Linked DNA regions of Homo sapiens. The protein of the gene in region 1 purifies or fractionates together with the protein of each later gene. This does not show direct contact. Each region holds a gene or a part of one and is shown on either strand. Other genes may lie near its edges. The genes, in order: ZNF491, BPIFA2 and MUC7.

Region 1 (7,965 bases):
CTCCTGAGTAGCTGGGACTATAGGCATGCACCACCATGCCCAGCTAATTTTTGTATTTTTAGTAAAGACAGGGTTTCACTATGTTGGCCAGGCTGGTCTTGAACTCCTGACCTCATGATCCACCCGCCTCAGCCTCCCAAAGTGCTGAGATTATAGGCATGAGCCACCACATCCAGCCAAGCAATGGATTTTAATGACATTTCTCCCAGACATACACAAATGGCCAACAAACACATGAAAAGATGATCAATGTCAAGAATCAGCCATGGAGTTTTACCCAATGTCATTTTGGGTAGTTACTGAATAGTTTCCTCTCATAAAAAATATTCATAAACAAAATATAATTTTTTTCTTTTTAAAATTTTATTTATTTATTTAATAGAGACGGGGTCTCTCTATGTTGCTGAGCTGGTCTTAAACTTCTGGACTCAAGTGATCCTCCCACCTCGGCCTGCCAAAGTGCTGGGATTACAGGTGTAAGCCAGCATGCCAAGCCCTAAAGTTTTTGTTTTTTTGAGGAAAATTTTCACCCTGTCTCCCAGGCTGGAGTGCAGTGGTGCCCTCAAGGCTCACTGCAGCCTTGGATCTTCGGGGCTCAAGCGATCCTCCCGCCTTAGTCTCCCGAGTATAGTAGCTGAGACTACAGGAATATGACACCATGCCCAGCTATTTTGTTTGGTTGTTTTCAGTAGAGATGAGATCTTGCTATGTTGCCCTGCCCACTCTGGTCTTGAACTCCTAGGCTCAAGCAATCCTCCCACCTGGGCCTCTGAAAGTGCTGGGATTACAGGAGTGAGTCACTGTGCCTGGACTAAAATTTTTAAAAAATGTTTTCTTTCCCGTGTCTCTACTAAAAATACAAAAATCTGCCGGGCATGTCGGCACATGCCTGTAATCCCAGCTACTTGGGAGGCTGAGGCAGGGGAATCGCTTGAACCCAGGAGGCCGAGGTTGCAGTGAGCCAAGATAGCACCATTGCACTCCAGCCTGGGCAACAGACACAGTGAGACTGTCTCAAAAAAAAAAAAAAAAAAAAAGTTTTCCTTATTTTCAGAGGTGTTGATAACATTTTTAAATAGTGCTATTCATTTGTCTGTGGAAAAATGATAAAATATGGCAGCTGTTTCAAATGTAGCATGGGAAACACATAATTGATAAGGATGTCAATTGGCGAGGGGAAGTTGGTGTTTTTGAATGTGAGGAGAAAACCAGAAATTTAGGGATTTACTGTCATACCTGGGAAGAACTAGGCTGGGAGAGGGGTCCCAAAAACTCCCTCTTTGATCAAACTAGTCAGGCTCCTCAGAGCCCCCCTCTTCTTGAGTAGACTTTGGCCTTTTCCTGCAGAGCCCTGTGGTAGCAAAAACCCTTCTAAGGGAGTTTAGAGAAAATTCCCCCAAACCTGATATCCAATCAAGTCCCTTTTCCCTACGTTTGACAATCTCTTCCCTAATTCTTGACACTAAACCAACTTCCATCCTCTCCCTCACCTTGCCTATTAGCTGTAAATTCAATACTGTCGTTGATGCAGCCTTCACCTCCTGGGCTCAAGCAATTCTCCTGCCTCAGCCTCCAGACTAACTACAGAAGCGGCCATCATACCTGACTAATTTTTTTTTTTTTTAACAGAGTCTCGCTCTGTCGCCAGGCTGGAGTGCAGTGGCACCATCTCGGCTCACGCAACCTCCGCCTCCTGCGTTCAAGCGATTGTCTTGCCTCAGCCTCCCGAGTAGCCGGATTACAGGCACGTGCCACCACGCCCAGCTAATTTTTGTATTTTTGGTAGAGTCGGGGTTTCACCATGTTGGCCAGGATGGTCTCGAATTCCTGACCTCGTCATCCGCCCGCCTCGGCCTCCCAAAGTGCTGGGATTGTAGACGTGAGCCACCGCGCCCGGCCATACCCGACTAATTTTTTAAAATATTTTGTACAGACGGGGTCTCGCCATGTTGTCCACGCTGGCATCACCTTGCCTTACGCTGGAATGTTAAATATACTCTTTTAAATTGGAAAGGAAATGAAACCCAAATGTAAAGAAAAAAAAAAAAAAGCTCTATGGGGGCGGGGGGAGGGGGGCGGGCCAAACTCTGATTAAATTGTTGTGCCTCACAAACTAGCCTTGTATAAAAAACGTTGTAATCCTGTTAAATTTCTTGCCTATATAAGCAAGAACTTAAACTTTTAAATTTGAAACACTGAGCCCATTTCCGTGGATCCTGTGTTTTCCCAAATGGGCCATTCCCAGCTTCTTGCTTGAGTAAACTTTAAAAAACTGGAATCTGATTCTTTTATTTCAGGTTGACAAGTCCACATACGGCGACAGCATCACTGTAACTAATCAAGTATTTAATCCTGTTTGCCTCCTCATGCAACTTATAAAAGCCTTTTCTTCAATCACAAGCCATGACCGGGTGTTTCTCACTCGGAATCGCTGTTGCTCCAACAAACTCTTTAACTGTTAACAGAGCCTCAGTTTAATTTTTAGCAGAAGAAAGGCGGGACACATCCGACCCCCCATGACCCTCCCGTGGCCCCCGCACAATCTGGGAAGACGCCGGGCTGCGGGCGCGGAGCTGCCCAGAGAGGACTCCGGGGCCGGGGCCGCAGTCGCCGCGTAGGGACGGGACAGGACGCCCGGGGTCCCAGCTGCGGGCCCAGCCCCACCTGGCGGCCGAGCGGACCGAGGGCCAAGCCACGCCATGGGGGACGCGGGTCCCAATCGCCGGGGTCGCCCGAGCGGAGGCCTGGGTCCCGCCACAGCAGGATCCTGTTGGTTCCACCCAGCCCCTCTTCCACGTATCTGGACGCTAGGCCGGGCACTTTACCATTTCCCTGCTTCTTGGTGTCCCGGCGTCCTCTTTATGACTCCGGAGCAGGTCACAGCGCAGGTGACAGCGTCACAGGAGCCGTGGCGGAGGCACCTGGGGCCTCTCGGAGCAGCAAGGACTGGATGCAGAACGCAACGGACCCCAGCAACAAAGGAGTGCAGAGACTCTGAGTGCGGCCTTCTGCTTCCCCGGATTGACAGTTGGCAGGGCCCCGTCCCAGGGCCCCTGATTGGATGGGGTTCCAGGCTCCGCCCCTCAGCCCTGAGTGACAGGGTAAGCCCTGGGTAACGGAGCCCTGCAGAGCCCGGCTGATTAATCCTAGCTACAGCCTTTCTAAGGCTAAGCTCACTCCCTGCGCCCTGGTCGTTGGCTATCTGCATTTCAGCCAAACTTGCTACTTATTGTTAGAAGGGGCACTGTTAGCTTCCTCGATCTTTCAGAAATGTGTGCTGGGAATTCCAGACTCGGTGTTCAATGGAGTCATTCCTTTGCCTCATAGCAGGAAGGAAATCCAGGCCAGGCCAGGCCAGGCAAGACTGCACCAGGAGGGAGAGGCAGGTGTCCTCTACAGGGCGGGAATTGGGGATGAGACTTCCTCACACTCCCCCCGTCCCACCCCTGAATATGGAACCGCTTCCTCCCCCTAGACTTCATTTTCACCAGCAGAAGTTCTCACCTGGGGTCAGTTTAAGCTTCTAACCTAAGTAAACTATTACCTTCACAAACCCTTTCTCCAGGTGACATGTCAGACAAATCTTACTGAGCCTGATCTTCACAGATTATCTTTGTATGTACAAATTACAGTCTGTCGCCGGGACCCTTTGCACGTAAAAACCAAACACTGCCCCCGCAAAACGTCCCTAGGCTCTAGGTACAGCCCCAGTAAGGACAGAACCTCCCCCCAACCCCCCTACACAAAGTGCACCTGCACGTGAGTCTCCTGCTTTCCAGGGCTCTGTAGCTTCTCAGGATCCACATTCCTTCCGCAGCTGTTCTGAGCAGCTGGAGGCCACCTGCAGTAGAGGGCAGGCTGCCCGGGAAACACCCAGGGGAGCTCCCTTTCCCTCCCTTTGCCGGCTCCAGACTGGCCTCAGCAGGGTGTCACTGGCCTTAGGCTCTGCTGCCCCCTACAGGTTATTCACTTCATTGATCGGTTACCTGAGACAAACACCCTCAGTTCCACTGTACGTATGTATAAAGTGGGGAAGGAAAATTCTAAGATAATTGAAGTGAATTAAAAGACTTGCAGGCAGGGTGCGGGGGCTCACGCCTATAATCCCAACCCTTTTGGAGGCTGAAGCGGGAGGACTGCTTGAACCCAGGAGTTCATCATCCTGGAAAACGGAGCCACACCTCGTCTGTACTAAAAATTTAAAAATTAGCAGTGCGTGGTGTCCTGAACCTGTAGTCCCAGCTACTCGGGAGGCTGAGGTGGGAAGATCTTGAGCCCAGGAGTTTGAAGCTTCAGTGACCTATGATCTCGCCACTGTGCTTCAGCAAGAGTTGTGATAGTTGTATCAGATAAAATAGACTTTAAATAAAAAACAGTACAAAAAGACAAAGAAGATCATGAGATACTGATAACAGAATCAATTCAGCAAGATAATATAGTAATACTAAATATATATGCATCCAACATTGGAGAGGCCAAATTAATAAAGCAAATATTTCTAGACCTAAAGAAAGATATAGATAGCAATACAATAATAGTATGGGACTTCAGCACCTCACACACAGTAGTAGATATATCATCAAGACAGACAATCAACAAAAAAATTGGACTTAAGTTGGACTTTGGACCAAATGGAGCTAACAGACGTTTACAGAACCCAACAACTGCAGAATATACATTCTTCTCATCAGTACGTGAAACATTCTCCAAGGTAGACCATATGTTAGGCCACAAAACTAGTCTCGACAAATTTTAAAGTCAAAATCATTTCAAGCATCTTCTCAGACTGCTGAATAAAACTAAAAATCAATACCAAGAGGAACTTTGAAAACTGTATAAATACATGGAAATTAAACAATGTGCTCCTGAATGATCTCTGAGTCAAAGAAGAAATAAAAACAGAAAATAAAAATTTTGTTTGAAATGAACAAAAATGGCAACACAACATATCAAAACCTCTGGGATATAGGAAAAGTCATGCTAAGAGGGAAGTTTATAGAATTATATGCCTCTGTCAAAAAAGTAACAAATTAACAACCTAACATGGTACCCCATGGAACTAGGAAAACAAGAACAAAACAAATCCAAAGTTGGCAGAAAAGAAATAACAAAGATCAGAGCAGAATTAAACAAAATCAAGACTAAAAAACAACACAAATGATAAACGAAACAAAAAGTTGGTTCTTTGAAAATATCAACAAAAGTAATAAACTGCTGGCTAGACTAACCAAGAAAAAAAAGAAGATTCAAATGAACAAAACCAGAATTGAAAAAGAAGACATTACACCAATACCACAGAAATACCATCAGAGACTACTATGAACAACTATATGCTCACAACCTAGAAAACCTATAGGTTTTTTTGAAACGTATAACCTCCCAGGATTGAACCAAGAAGAAACAGATATCCTGAATAGACCAATAATAAGTAGCAATATTGAATCAGCAATAAAAAAATTCCCAAAAATGAAAGCTCTGGGCCAGACAGATTTATACCAAAATTGTACCAAATAGGCCAGATGTGGTGGCTCATGCCTGTAATCATAGCACTGTGGAGCCTGAGACAGGAGGATTGCTTGAGGCCAGGAGTTTGAGACCACCCTGGCCAACATAACAAGATCCCATCTCTAAGTAAAAAAATAAAAATTTAAAAATCAACATTAAAAAAATTATACCAAACATACAAAAAGAACTATACTAATAATCCTGAAACTGTCCCTAAAAATCACAGACAAGGGAAATCTCCCTAACTCATTCTATGAGGCCAGTAACATCCTAATACCAAAAACAGACAAGGACACAACAACAAAACTACAGACCAATATCCCCGATGAACACGGATGTGAAAATCCCCAACAAAACACTAGCAAACTGAATCCAACCGCACATTAAAAAGATAATACAGCATGATAAAGTAGGTTTTATACCAGGAATGCAAAAATGGTCCAACACACACAAGTTAATATATGTAACACATCACAAAAACAGAATGAAGAATAAAAACCATATGATCATCTCAATAGATTTAGAAAACACACTTGATAAAATTCAGCATCCTTCATGATAAAAGCTCAAAAAACTAGGTACAGAATGAACATATCTCAAAATAATAAAAGCCACACATGATAAACACACAGCCAACATCATACTGAATGGGGAAATAGTTGAATGATAAAAACTAGAACAAGATTAAGGATGCCTACTTTCACCACTCTTATTCAACCCTAGTATAGGAAGTCTTGGCCAGAGCAATCAGGCAAGAGAAAGAAATAAAAGACATGCAAATTGGAAAAGAGGAAGTCAAATTATTCCTGTTCAGTGATATATAATCTTACATCTAGAAACGCTTAAGACTCCACCAAAAATCTCTTAGATTAGTTAAATTAATTCAGGAGTTTCAGGATACAAAGTCAGTGTACAAAAGTCAGCAGTGTTTCTATACAGCAACAACAATCTAGCTGAGAACCAAATCGAGAAAGCAATACCACTTACGAGAGCTACCAAATAACACCCCACCCCACATGGGAATATATTGCACCAAGGAGGTGAAAGGCCTCTACAAAAAGAAAAAATCTATAAAACACTGATTAAAGAATTACAGATGACACAAACAAATGGAAAAAACATTTCATGCTTATGGAAAGAACTAATATCAGAAGAATTAATTTCATTAATTATTCAGAAAGAATTAATATCATTAAAATGACTATACTTCCCAAAGCAATCTACAGAGTCAATGCAATTCTTATCAAAATACCAATGTTAGTTTTCACATAATTAGGAAAAACAATCCTAAAATTCATATAGAACCAAAAAAGTGCCCGAATAACCAAAGCAATCCTAAACAAAAAGAACAAAGTTGGAGGCAATGTTACAGGACAGGGGTCCCAATCCAGACCCCAAGAGAGGGTTTTCGAATTTCCTGCAAGAAAGAGTTCAAGGCAAGTCTGCAGTGCAAAGTAAAAGCAAGTTTATTAAGAAAGTAAAGTGGTGAAAGAACAGCTACTCCCCAGAAAGAGTTGGATGTTTCTGTAAGTAAGAGGAGGAACGCATCCACCCTAGGTACAATGATGCTTGTATATATGGGCAGATGTGCTCTGCTATAAGGGTCCATGATAAAGGATTAATTTTCTTAATTACTATATTTTGCAAGAATTGATATTATTATCTTTAAAGCAAAATTAGAAATGCCTTTGTTCTCCAGATATTGGGATATCTGGACACTACCAAGTCTGGGTCTTGGTAAACATTATTAATTTGTTCCTTTAACTGTAAACACCTAGAAGCGAGGTATGCCTAACTTTCTGGGAATGAAGCCCAGCAATTCCCAGCCTCACTTTCCTAGCCCTCAGAATGGAGTCGCTCTGGTTCGAATGCCTCTGACAGCAACACATTACCTAACTTCAAGTTATACTACAAGGCTATTGCAATCAAATCAGCATGTTACTGGTATAAAAATATACACAGAAATAAATGAAACAGAATAGAGAACCTAGAACAAAATCCACATATTTACATCCAACTGGTTTTTTACAAAGTCAACAAGAACATACATTGGGGTAAGGACACCCTTTTCAATAAACAGTGCTGGGAACACTGGATTGCCATACGGAGAAGAATGAAGCTGGACCCTGATCTCTCTCCATATACAAAAATCAATTCAAAATGTACTTAAATGTAAATCCCAAAACTATAAAAATACTAGAAGGAAATCTAAGGAATTCTCTTCTGGACATTGGTCTAGGCAAAAAATGCCGGATTAAGACCTCAAAAGCACAGGCAACAATAACAAAATAGACAAATGTGACTTAAGTAAATGGAAAAGCTTCTGCACAGCAAAATAAATAATCAATAAAGTGAACAAATAACCCGAAGAATGGGAGAAATTAATTGCAAACTATATATTAACAAAACACTAATATCCAGAATATACAAGGAACTCAAACAACTCAACAACAACAAAAA
Region 2 (3,876 bases), on another chromosome or scaffold:
ACCTGGAAAAGACATCTCTGCTCCAGTGGGACCCCTAGAGGGCAGCAGGGCTAACAGGGCAGGTGGAGATGGGGCCACAGGCCTCTGACCCTGCATCACTCTGTCTCATACTCCTGACTCCAGTCAGGCTAGGTGTCCCCTGATTCTCCAAGAATCCTCAGGGCCCCTGGAGAGGAATGGAGGAAAGTGCTGGGTGGGGCTGTCCCCAGAATGTGACTTTCCAGTTCCCATTGCCTGTCTGGCACAGAGTAGGTGTTCACTACATACCTGTTGAATGCATGAATGGATAGATCAGGGGTCTGCTATTGCCACAGATTGGCTGTGTGACTTGGGCTAGTTTGTTGCCCTCTCTGTCTCAGTGGCCCCCTTTATAGAACCAGGAGATGTGGCTGGATATTCCCACTGAGCCTTCTAGCTCTGGATCCAGGTCTCTCCCACCCTAGTTGCAGCCCCCAACCTCCCTCCCCAGTTCCCACCAACAAATCCCAAATGGAGGGAATGCAACAAGCCACACAGAAGGGTGCAGAAATGGGCCTTTATTGCCAGGGGCAGGACAACATGTGTAGAGGCTGCTGTTCTGACTGTGAGGAGAAGGGGTATCTGGGAAGGTCCTTCTGGTGGGACTCAGGCTTTCACGCTGGTTAGGTGGTGGCAGCAGCTTCCTGGAGGGAGATGCTATAAGGGGGTGGGGCAAGCCACTGGGAACCAATCTGGAATGAGACCAAGGGGGTTAGGACATTTGCTGCTAGGCTGCCCTTACACCCAGCTGTCAGTCATCCACTGGGCACTTGATGGGACCCAAGTTGACCTGGCTCCAGTGTCCCAGCTCTTTCCCACAATACCCCATGCGGTTTAAGTCCTGGGAAGAAGAAACTGGCACCTGTGGTTTGGGGTCTTTCATTAGCACCTGGCACTGACTCATCTTCATTCCCCTCACCCTCCTTCAGAACAATGGTAGATGTGAAAAGATTGATTGAGGCCACTACTGGAGCCAGGTTCAGGGCCCAATATGTGATCAGAATCATGGATATCCATTTGAGACCAAGGTTGGGGCTCATTCTGTGACCAAGACTAAGGCTCAGTCAATAACTGGCATCAAAGCTCAGTCTGTGACTAGGATCCAGGCTCAGTCTGGGGCCAGAATCAGAGTTCAGTGATTAAGGCTCAGTGTTCAGAGTGTGACCAGAATCAGGGCCTAGCCTGGGATGGGGGCCAGGGCTCAATCTATGACTGAGATGAAGGCACAGTCTTCTAACACAAAAATAAGGGAAGCCACGCTTGACTTTTACTTCACCATAGGCCCCTGTGCATTGGGGCACAGAGACTGGCTCCTCACCAGCATGCACCACAGTGGTCCTCCTCATTCGTCCTCTTCAGATGAGGGTTTGCAGCTGGGTTTTGTGCTGAGGATTATCTGAAGAAACAAAATCAATAGCAGGCCTTAGTCTCTGCCACTGGAATTGAATAGAGACCAGACTCCAAAAGATGCCGCTCTCCAGCCGGTAACCTGACAGTTGTGGGACCCCAGGGATGTTGCTCCACCTCTCTGAGCTTCAGTTTGTTCATCTGTAAAGTGGGTACAATGACAGTACCTTCCCCACAGGGTTGTTGCAAGGATCCAGTGAGATAGTGTGTACAGAGCACAAAGTGACTGCCTAAGGGACTGGACTTGTGGCTATTTCCTTTCTTCTTCTTCTTTTTTTTTTTCTTTTTTTGAGATTGCGGTCTCACTCTGTCACCCAGGCCGGAGTGCAGTGGCATGATGTCGGCTACCTGCGATGTCCGCCTCCTAGGCTCAAGCAATCCTCCCGCCTCAGCCTCCCGAGTAGCTGGGACTCCAGGTGGATGCCACCACGCCTGGCTAATTTTGTATTTTTTAGTAGAGATGGGGTTTCACCGTGTCACCCAGGCTGGTCTCAAACTCCTGAACTCAAGTGGTCTGCCCACCTCAGCCTCGCAAAGTGCTAGGATTACAAGTGTGAGCCACTGCGCCTGGCTGACTTGTGGCTATTTTCATAGAAGGGTCACCTCCAGGGTCTTGACAGCTTTACTTACTCCATTTCTCCCCAGCAACCCCAGCCATGCCTGTAGACCCAAAAGCCAAAGGGAGCCCCCGGGTGCCTGTGGAGGGGAAGCCATGGCTCCCAATTTGCTTAGGACAGTGGGTCCTTCTGCTTCTCCAGGGTCCCCTGACCAGAACTGCTTATGGGGTGGGCACAGAGCTCCATGCCTGCCTCAGAAGGTCCCCACTTCCCCATTGACTTACCGACGACCTGCTGAATGACATTCACATCCAGGGAGTGGATGAAGATGCGGATCAGTGGACATATCTGACAGCGGAGAAAGGAGGAAGAGGAGGGTCAGGAGTAGGAGGAAGAACAGATCATTCTTCTCAGCTGAGAACAAATTGCTTGCCACCCACAGATGAGCTCATTTCTAGGGATCTTAGAATCTTTGAACCTTAGGATTTTATTTTGTTTTATTGTATTTTTTTTTTTTTTTCTGAGACAGAATCTCACTGTCTTGCCCAGGCTGGAGTACAGTGGTACGATTTCTGCTCACTGCAACCTCCGCCTCCCAGATTCAAGTGATTCTCCTGCCTCAGCCTCTCAAGAAACTGGGTTCACAGGCACATGCCACCATGCCTGGCTAATTTTTGTATTTTCAGTAGAGACAGGGTTTCACCATGTTAGCCAGGCTGGTCTTGAACTCCTGACCTCAAGTGATCTGCCCACCTTGACCTTCAAAAGAGCTGGGATTACAGGCATAAGCCACCGCGCCTGGCCTGAACCTTAGGATTTTAGAACAATGGGATCCCAGCAGTCTTAAATCTGGAAACCCTAGGGTGTTAGAATCCTAACACCTTAGAACACTAGAATTCTAGGACCTCAAAAATCTACATTCTAGATTGTTAACATTCCCATGTTGAACTTTGGAACCCTGGAATTTTAAAGGGTCAAATGGTGCCCTGAGGCATTTGCCCTGAGGTTGTAGAGCGGAGTATCTCTTGCTCCTGTGTGTACACAGTTCCCCGCAGATTGCAATTCAGCAGGTCTGGGGTGTGGCCTGAGATTCCGCATTCCTATCAAGCACCCAGCTGAGGCTGAAGCTGGTGGAGGATCGCTTTTGGAATATAACTAAACTCCGGTTCAGTGGGTCACAGAGCCATCCGGAGGATTTTTCTTTTATAAACCCACATTCCTGGGTCTGCTTCCAGAATGACTGATTTAGAATCTCTGCAACTTTGGGCCTAGTAATCCTGCACATGGTACCTATGGTTTTGGATGATGCACAGATGGAAAAAAAATTAAAACTATTTTATAAGTCCATTGATTGTATGATATGTGATATTAATTTTCTATTTATGATAGGGATATAAAGTTTTATTTTTAAAAATAAATGCTTCTAAAGAAACATATTTAAGTAAAATTGTGTTGAAGATGTTAGCTACAAAAGCATATTGGTAGTGCGTGGATATGGTGAGAGGCTCAAGTTTGGGACCTGGCAATTTCAGCTAATGTCAGGCCTCTGCTCTACCCTGCTACCCACCAGGCTGATTAGTAGAGGAGGAAGCTCCAGCTGACCTCCTAAGGAGAAGCTTTCACCTCCGAAGGAAAAGTGCTCAGAGGATACAGCCAGGCCTGCAAATTCCCCCACCTGCCCCCACCAGGCCTGGATCTGGGCTCCAAGGAGTGGGAGACTCACCTCCTTCTGCAGCAGGGAGGATACAGTGCTTTTCAGCGTGTTGATCACGCTATTCACGAACTTGTTGATGATTTGGCTGTGTCTGGAAAACACAGGGAACTATTAAAGTCTGGTCAAGTGGGCAAGAGATGGGAGAACTGCCAAAAAGTTGGGGGCGGTGCGGGAAATACT
Region 3 (7,122 bases), on another chromosome or scaffold:
TTTATGTTTATAGGATTAGATGGTTCAGGTGGGATTTTGATGGGGGTACAAGGTAGTGGTTTTGTAGTTTCTAACATTCAGGGAAAAGTAAATGGTTGATGGCCCATACAATATTCTCTCTTTATCTAAGGACTTTCTTTGCCCTCAGTAGGCTATCTCTGTAGGATCCAAAGAGTTATTTTGAACCCCAGACCTGCATCTGGCTTGTGGGATAGAGGCATTTTGTCTTGTTAATAGGTCTTGTGGTGGTGAATAATTAGATTGAAAGATTAATGATAGTGCTTTAAATCTGAGTAATATAATTTCATGTTGGGATTGGTGCTAAAAGAAAGGTGGTAGTTCTGCACTCATGAATCACATCTTGTAAATGACAGAACACTTTACAACATACAATATACTATTGCTCCACCATGTCGTCAATAATTCTGTTTAGTAGATTCTTCATATATAAAAGAAATCGAGAAATTTTATTTTGGCCAGGAGCTGAAGTTGGTTGTTTAGTAGTAGTAGTTTGAGTAGTGACCGAAGTAGTAGTCTGGTGTGTGGGTGCAGCTGAAGTTTCAGAAGTGTCAGGTGCAAGAGTAGTTGGGGAAGAATTAGGTGTGGTAATTGGGGCAGCTGTGGTCTCTTGTGGAGCTGGGGAAGACGGTGGAGCTGGTGTAGTTGCAGAAGGTGTGGGTGGGGCAGCTGTGGTCTCTGGTGGAGCTGAGGCGGATGATGGGTCTAGGGTAGTTGCAGAAGGTGTGGGTGGGACAGCTGTGGTCTCTGGTGGAGCTGAGGAAGATAGTGGAGCTGGTGTAGTTGCAGAAGGTGTGGGTGGGGCAGCTGTGGTCTCTGGTGGAGCTGAGGAAGATGGTGGAGCTGGTGTAGTTGCAGGAGGTGTGGGTGGGGCAGCTGTGGTCTCTGGTGGAGCTGAGGAAGATGGTGGAGCTTGTGTAGTTGCAGAAGGTGTGGGTGGGGCAGCTGTGGTCTCTGGTGGAGCTGAGGAAGATGGTGGAGCTGGTGTAGTTGCAGAAGGTGTGGGTGGGGCAGCTGTGGTGTCTTGTGGAGCTGGGGAATTCACTGGTGCTAATGTAGCTACAGAAGAGCTTGTGTTAACATTTTCTCTTGAAGATATGGTGGTGGCATTCTGGGGAAGAAAAGTCACATTTGGAAGGGTAGTAATTTTGGTGGAAGCTGATGGGAAAGTCACAGATGGAATTTGGGTTGTAGCCACTAAGGTAGGGTTGACCACACTGCTATTTTTATCTGGATGTTTAGGTGGCTGGTGAGGATTTGGGAATTTGGGGGGGTTATTAGGTGAAGGTGGAAGCTTAGGCCTACAGCGTTTGTGCAGACATTTATAGGACTTTCTAATGAACGGCTTCTGGTGAGCTAGCAGTCCAGGATAATGTGGTAATTCAAAGTGAGATTTGGGTGATTGGTGATGATGCCTTCTGTGACGTAGTTCATGATCCCTTTCTCGACCTTCACTGAACTGCAGAAAAGAAAGAAAATGTAAGAAATGAAAAAAGTATCCATTTATCAATCAGGTGATCACTGCTGACCATGAGATGAGCGGTATTTGTGGAATGCTGGGATTAGAAACCAGAGTACATTATTGAGTCAAGTGATTATCTTCCTAATTTCACCAAGTTTCAAGAAAGAATTGCTACTAGAGAGTTTTCTTTTGTCAAATGTCTACTCTCTAGATAGCTGGGATGAATATATTCCTGTGGGTTCTAGCTTGAATGCTTAGCTGGATACGAACTTTTGTGCTTACAGTTCCTCTCTTCTTCCTCTGGTGGAAAATGGTCAAGTTACTGCCTGAGGTCCCATCACAAAAGCTTCCTGCTTGCTCAGCCTGTTCACAAAACTTTAGTCAAAGACATTCAACTGAGATCCAGGAGCCCTTTCTAGATTACACCCCTCATATCTACCATCATCAAAATACGAAACAGCCAAACAACAACAAAGCCCCAACAAACAAAATATCCCACCCCGGCTTCATGTTCTCCATATTTCAGGAAACAGTTTTTAGCCTTTATAAATTGGAGAAACAACTTTGGTCATTACCTTTTAACTTTATTGTTTAAAAAATTAGAATTATAGAATTCATGATTCGGGGGTTCATGAGTCATCTGATTTTTAGAGAAAATTTGCATGTTTATGCATTTTGTCTGGATAGAGCACCAATGGTTTTCATGATTTCTGAAAGGTGTTTACATCTGAAAAGAACACTGATCCAGTCCAACTGTACATCTGATACTTGATCTTTTATCAATACACCTGCTGAAAGGCTTTCTAGTCTATGCATCTAACCTCTTCTGATTAGGAACTCACTACTGTAATTCCTAAGGCCGCCTGGTAGAGAGTTCTTGACACTGAATGTAGGTTTGTTTTTTGGGATTTTCATTCTTAACTGAGTAGAATTTTCTTCATGAAGATTTCCATCCTTTGGTCCTAATTTTGTTTTGGCAGATTTACAGAAGATCCAGAAGTCTTTCAAAATTTGAAAATAACTTCTATGCCATGTGGGTCATCATTTTGCAAGATATTTTTATTTCCTTTAGCCATTGCTGACATTATTTGAGTTAGAGTACCATCACTGTTTCAGTTTCTTATCTGTAAACATACTTCATGCCTTTTATATCCCTCTTCCCTGTATTCAATCTCATACTACATTTTTTAGTGATCAGTTATATTAAATTGGAGAAAAGAAATATAACAGGATAAATGAGAACATCCCAAACAAGGATAGGTTACGTTTTCTTCCTAATGATGTTCACAGAAGCCCTTTTTAGATGACCAAATGGGTAAATCATTCCAGTCGCAAGTTATAAAGCTTTCTTTGGACACAAAGTTTAGTGCAGATGAAGTGACAACTTCTGAGAGACTAGCTGAGTTGTTTAACTAAGATAACTTCCTCAGAGACTAATATATCCAACCTCAAAAATAGCTTCTAGGTACTGGGCTTTCAGAGGTGAATGAAACAGGGACCATCGTGAGGCTCATGTGATTGAGGGAATGAACCACATAACTATTTCAAAGCAAAGAGGTCATAGAATTAGATTTTGGATCTGGAATTTAATTTAATCCGAATCATTTCATAAATGAATAAACTGAGATCCAGGCATATTAAGTGACTTGCCCAAAGTCATTCAATTATTCAATGCCAGACATAGGACAGACTAAAACCTCCACTGCTGGTCTGTTGCAGTGTGTTTCAAATATGTTCCTCTAAGATCTGGACATTCTCCACAACATCCATCAATACAAGAAAGTATTATTTGTTTAGAAAATTAAATTGTCCAGGAAATTTTAATTCACAACTGAGAACAACCAATAGCTAACATAATGGCTTCTGATACTCACATGACTTTGGTATTTTTCCATAAATCTCTCTTAAAAGGGCATAGGTTTTCAGAATCGGTAACACTGACTCCAGGAATCTCTGAGGAGATCCTTTCCATTACAGGGGTAGTTGTTTTCTCATATAAAATAGAACAGGTCATATTGTTCAAACAGATCTTTCCCTGGAGATTGAATATGCAATCCACATAATTAAGGACCTGCTCTGACTGAAGCAGGATTGAGGGCCTCACATTCCATGATCTCGGTCTTTCCCTTTCCAGATGGTCTCTGAGGATGTTGCAAAGAATGTCCAGATCTTATAGGAACATGTATGAAACATGCTGCAACAGACCAGCAGTGGAGGTTTGGCTCTGTCCTGTGTCTGCCACTGAATAGCTGAGTGACTTTGGTCAAGTCACTTAATGTGCCTGGATGTCGGCTTATTCATTTATAAAATGATTTGGATTAAATTAAATTCCAGATCCAAAGTCTAATTTTATTTGCTTTGAAATAGTTATGTGGTTCATTCCCTTAATCACATGAGCCTCACGAAGGCCCCTCTTTGATTCACCTCTGTAAGTCCAATACCTAAAACTATGCCTGGCATATGGCAGGTACTCATTAGCTATTAATTGAATGAGTAAATGCATGGAAATGATAACAATAACTAATTTGTTATTGAATAAAGTATTAACATTTAAAAGTGTTTATTCATATGTAAAATAGTTTCAGCTATTTTACTTTAGGTGACCAAAATAATACCTACCACATTTTTATATGAAGGCAAATTGATTAAAATCCTATTAATTTTAATGTTAGCTTGGCCTGGAACATGTATCAAATGACCAGTTTGTTTGATTTACTTAATATATTGATTAGTTATTATGATTGGCAGTTACAGGTGGTTATAACAGAAATTGTAGACTAGAGTTGGATTTAGAGAAGTCTGAGAGAGGAAGGAGTTGAAAATGCATGCCTCTAAAGTTTGAGTTTAGGTGACTGAAGTATGGAGGTCCTTATAATAAATATAGATATGCCAGGGAGGGTGTATTAAAGATAGCAACCCTGCCTGCCTGTTCACATTCATTATTTATTTTTATTAAAAAAGTCTTCATGTAACACTTTATGTTAGGCCCTATTCTGAGTGGTTTACAAATACAAATTTATTTAATTTCTTAGTAATATCATAAGGTGGGTACGGTTATTATCTTCATTATATGGATGGGAAAACTGAGTCTCAGACTAAGTAACTTTTAGGAGAATGTTTCTCCATTTGCAAACTGTACTTTTGAGAGCAGAGAAGAGGGAGAAGACATGAGGAACAAGGATAGAGTAGGCTGGAGTCAAGGGAAGGAGAAGGAGAGACACATGGCACTTGCAGCAAGAAAGGAGGGTATGAGAAAGCAGAAGACTCCTAAAATAACTAGAGGAATGCCAAATTCTCTGAGGAAGGAAGAGGAGGAGAAAATTAGTCAGAAAGGGAGAGAATTAGAAGACAGAAAGGCCAAGATTACATTTTTTACTTTTGTATTTTGAGACAGAGTCTCACTCTGTCACCCAGTTGGAGTGCAGTGGCATGATCTCAGCTCACTGCAACCTACGTCTCCTGGGTTCAAGGGATTCTCCTGCCTCAGCCTCCCTAGAAGCTGGAATTACAGGTGTGTACTGCATGCCTGGCTAATTTTTGTATTCTTAGTAGAGATGGGGGTTTCACCATGTTGGCCAGGCTGGTCTTGAACTCCTGACCTCAGGTGATCTTCCCGCCGCGGCCTCTGAAAGTGCTGGAATTACAGGTGTGAGCCACGGCACCCGGCCCAAGATTACATTTAATTGAAATTAGAAAGCACAATTCATTTCTTCATTTGCTACCAGCTTATTTTTATGACCATTTGAAAATCTGTGATCCTTTTTTAAAGAGAATGAAAGCATTATGCTAAATAATGCTATAGTTGACAGAGCTCTTCATCTGACTCCAGAATACATCCCTTCAAGTCTTTCTTTGGGACATCTGGAAGAGAGAAGCCAGACTATCTGCTCCCTGAAATCACTCCACAAAAGCAGGTTGTTGCTAGAGCTCCAGGACTGACCTTTTCTGGCTGTGGGTTAATGCTAATCTCCGGTACATTCCTGTATTTTCTTTTCTTTTTATTTTTTTTGAGACGGAGTCTCGCTCTGTCACCCAGGCTGAAGTGCAGTGGCACGATCTTGGCTCACTGCAACCTCTGCCTCCCAAGTTCAAGTGATTCTCCTCCATCAGCCTCCCAAGTAGCTGCAATTACAGGTGTGGGCCACCACGCCCAGCTAATTTTTGTATTTTTAGTAGAGACGATGTTTCACCATGTTGGCCAGGCTGGTCTCGAACTCCTGACCTCACATTCCTGTATTTTCTAAGGATCAGGTCAAGGTATTTCTGTGCTACCTTCTCATATTCAAGTTCTTTGGAAACTCTTTCTCTCACCAGGCACTTTTTTGAGATTTGGGCAGCTTGAAGAGTTTTATTTATTCTAAGCACTTGGAAGAAAGGATTCTTTAGGTGTCTGGATTTGAGGGAGTTATGATGAAAGGCCACTTCAAAAGAACAACCCAGATTCATCATTTCACAATAACATGACTTGTGTTGATTGGAAAATTATTTCTTTCAATATAGAGGTGTTGGTAGCCAGGGATTCCTTATTAAAACTTTACTTATTAAAAAGTTAACATCACTGTGCATATTCAGAACTTAAAGCCTTATCAACTAGTATGTAAATTGAGATTACAATAATCTTGTCATAATTTTTATATCTACACTATAGTTTATAATTTATAAATTCTCATTTACCCTTCAGCAGCCCTGTGAAGCATATAGTGTTGTTATTATTTTACACATAGGGAAATTGGGGCCCTATAAATAGATTCTAAATTGCTCAAGATTCATCTGGATGGTAAACATTAGAGATGAGTTTAAGCCCACATCTTCTGAGCCCAGCTTGAACACTCTTCTAGTCACAGAAATCAGCATTAGGGTCCGGGAAAAAGCCTGATTGTTTTCTGGGGGATATTATAAGGTAAGTGAGAAATATGAGAATATCCAAGAGTAAATTCCGTCCACTTCATCAGTTCTTCTGCCCTCTCTCTCTCTACTCTACTGGCGTAATATTCTGAGGCTATCCATCCTCATTCAATAAAAAAGTACATTCCACTTCTTGATTCTTATTTGAAATTTTGTCAAAATAAAATTTAATAAATACTTGCAGGTACATAGCATGAGAGAAAAATATGGTTATTATTACAGCATGTATCACCTTGTAATCACATTATATCATTATTAATTTTAATCTTCCTTTGCCAGTACACCCTAAATTTCTTAAAGATAGAAGGTCCACTTTGTAGTCTTCTCTTGGTTTTGGAAGCCATCCTTTCCTGTCCCCTCTTGTGGGTCCTCCATTTTCTCTATCCATATCTAAACTTCCTACATTTTCTCCCTAGGTGAAAATGTTGTAAGGTTTCATGGCTTCAAGTATGTTTTAAATATAGACTTTACCCCTAGATTTCTTTCTGAACTCCAGACAACATATATCCACTGTTTTCTTGATATCTTGATGTGGAAGTCTAATAGCCATTTCAAATGTAACATGCCCCAAACTAGAACGTTTTTGTTCATTTCTTTCTTTTTTTTTCTTTTGAGACAAAATCTTGCTCTGTCACCCAGGCTGTAGTGCAGTGATGCAATCTCGGCTCACTGCAAACTCTGCCTCCCAGGTTCGAGCAATTCTCCTGTCTCAGCCTCCTGAGTAGCTGGGATTACAG

Evidence for each region.
Region 2: the proteins of ZNF491 (region 1) and BPIFA2 purify together in Homo sapiens (affinity purification with mass spectrometry; 2 studies listed by BioGRID and IntAct, with this or other methods). This does not show direct contact.
Region 3: the proteins of ZNF491 (region 1) and MUC7 purify together in Homo sapiens (affinity purification with mass spectrometry; 2 studies listed by BioGRID and IntAct, with this or other methods). This does not show direct contact.

What each region holds. Positions count from the first base shown.
Region 1 is NC_000019.10:11,793,588-11,801,552, reverse strand, and holds the start of ZNF491 (zinc finger protein 491), read right to left. Parts: upstream 3,031-7,965; 5' UTR 2,826-3,030; intron 1-2,825. UniProt on the Homo sapiens protein: May be involved in transcriptional regulation.
Region 2 is NC_000020.11:33,178,058-33,181,933, reverse strand, and holds the end of BPIFA2 (BPI fold-containing family A member 2 precursor), read right to left. Parts: intron 3,788-3,876; coding exon 3,706-3,787; intron 2,331-3,705; coding exon 2,267-2,330; intron 1,415-2,266; coding exon 1,374-1,414; 3' UTR 1,337-1,373; intron 711-1,336; 3' UTR 522-710; downstream 1-521. UniProt on the Homo sapiens protein: Has strong antibacterial activity against P.aeruginosa.
Region 3 is NC_000004.12:70,475,154-70,482,275, reverse strand, and holds part of MUC7 (mucin-7 precursor), read right to left. Parts: intron 1,478-7,122; coding exon 398-1,477; 3' UTR 1-397. UniProt on the Homo sapiens protein: May function in a protective capacity by promoting the clearance of bacteria in the oral cavity and aiding in mastication, speech, and swallowing. Binds P.aeruginosa pili.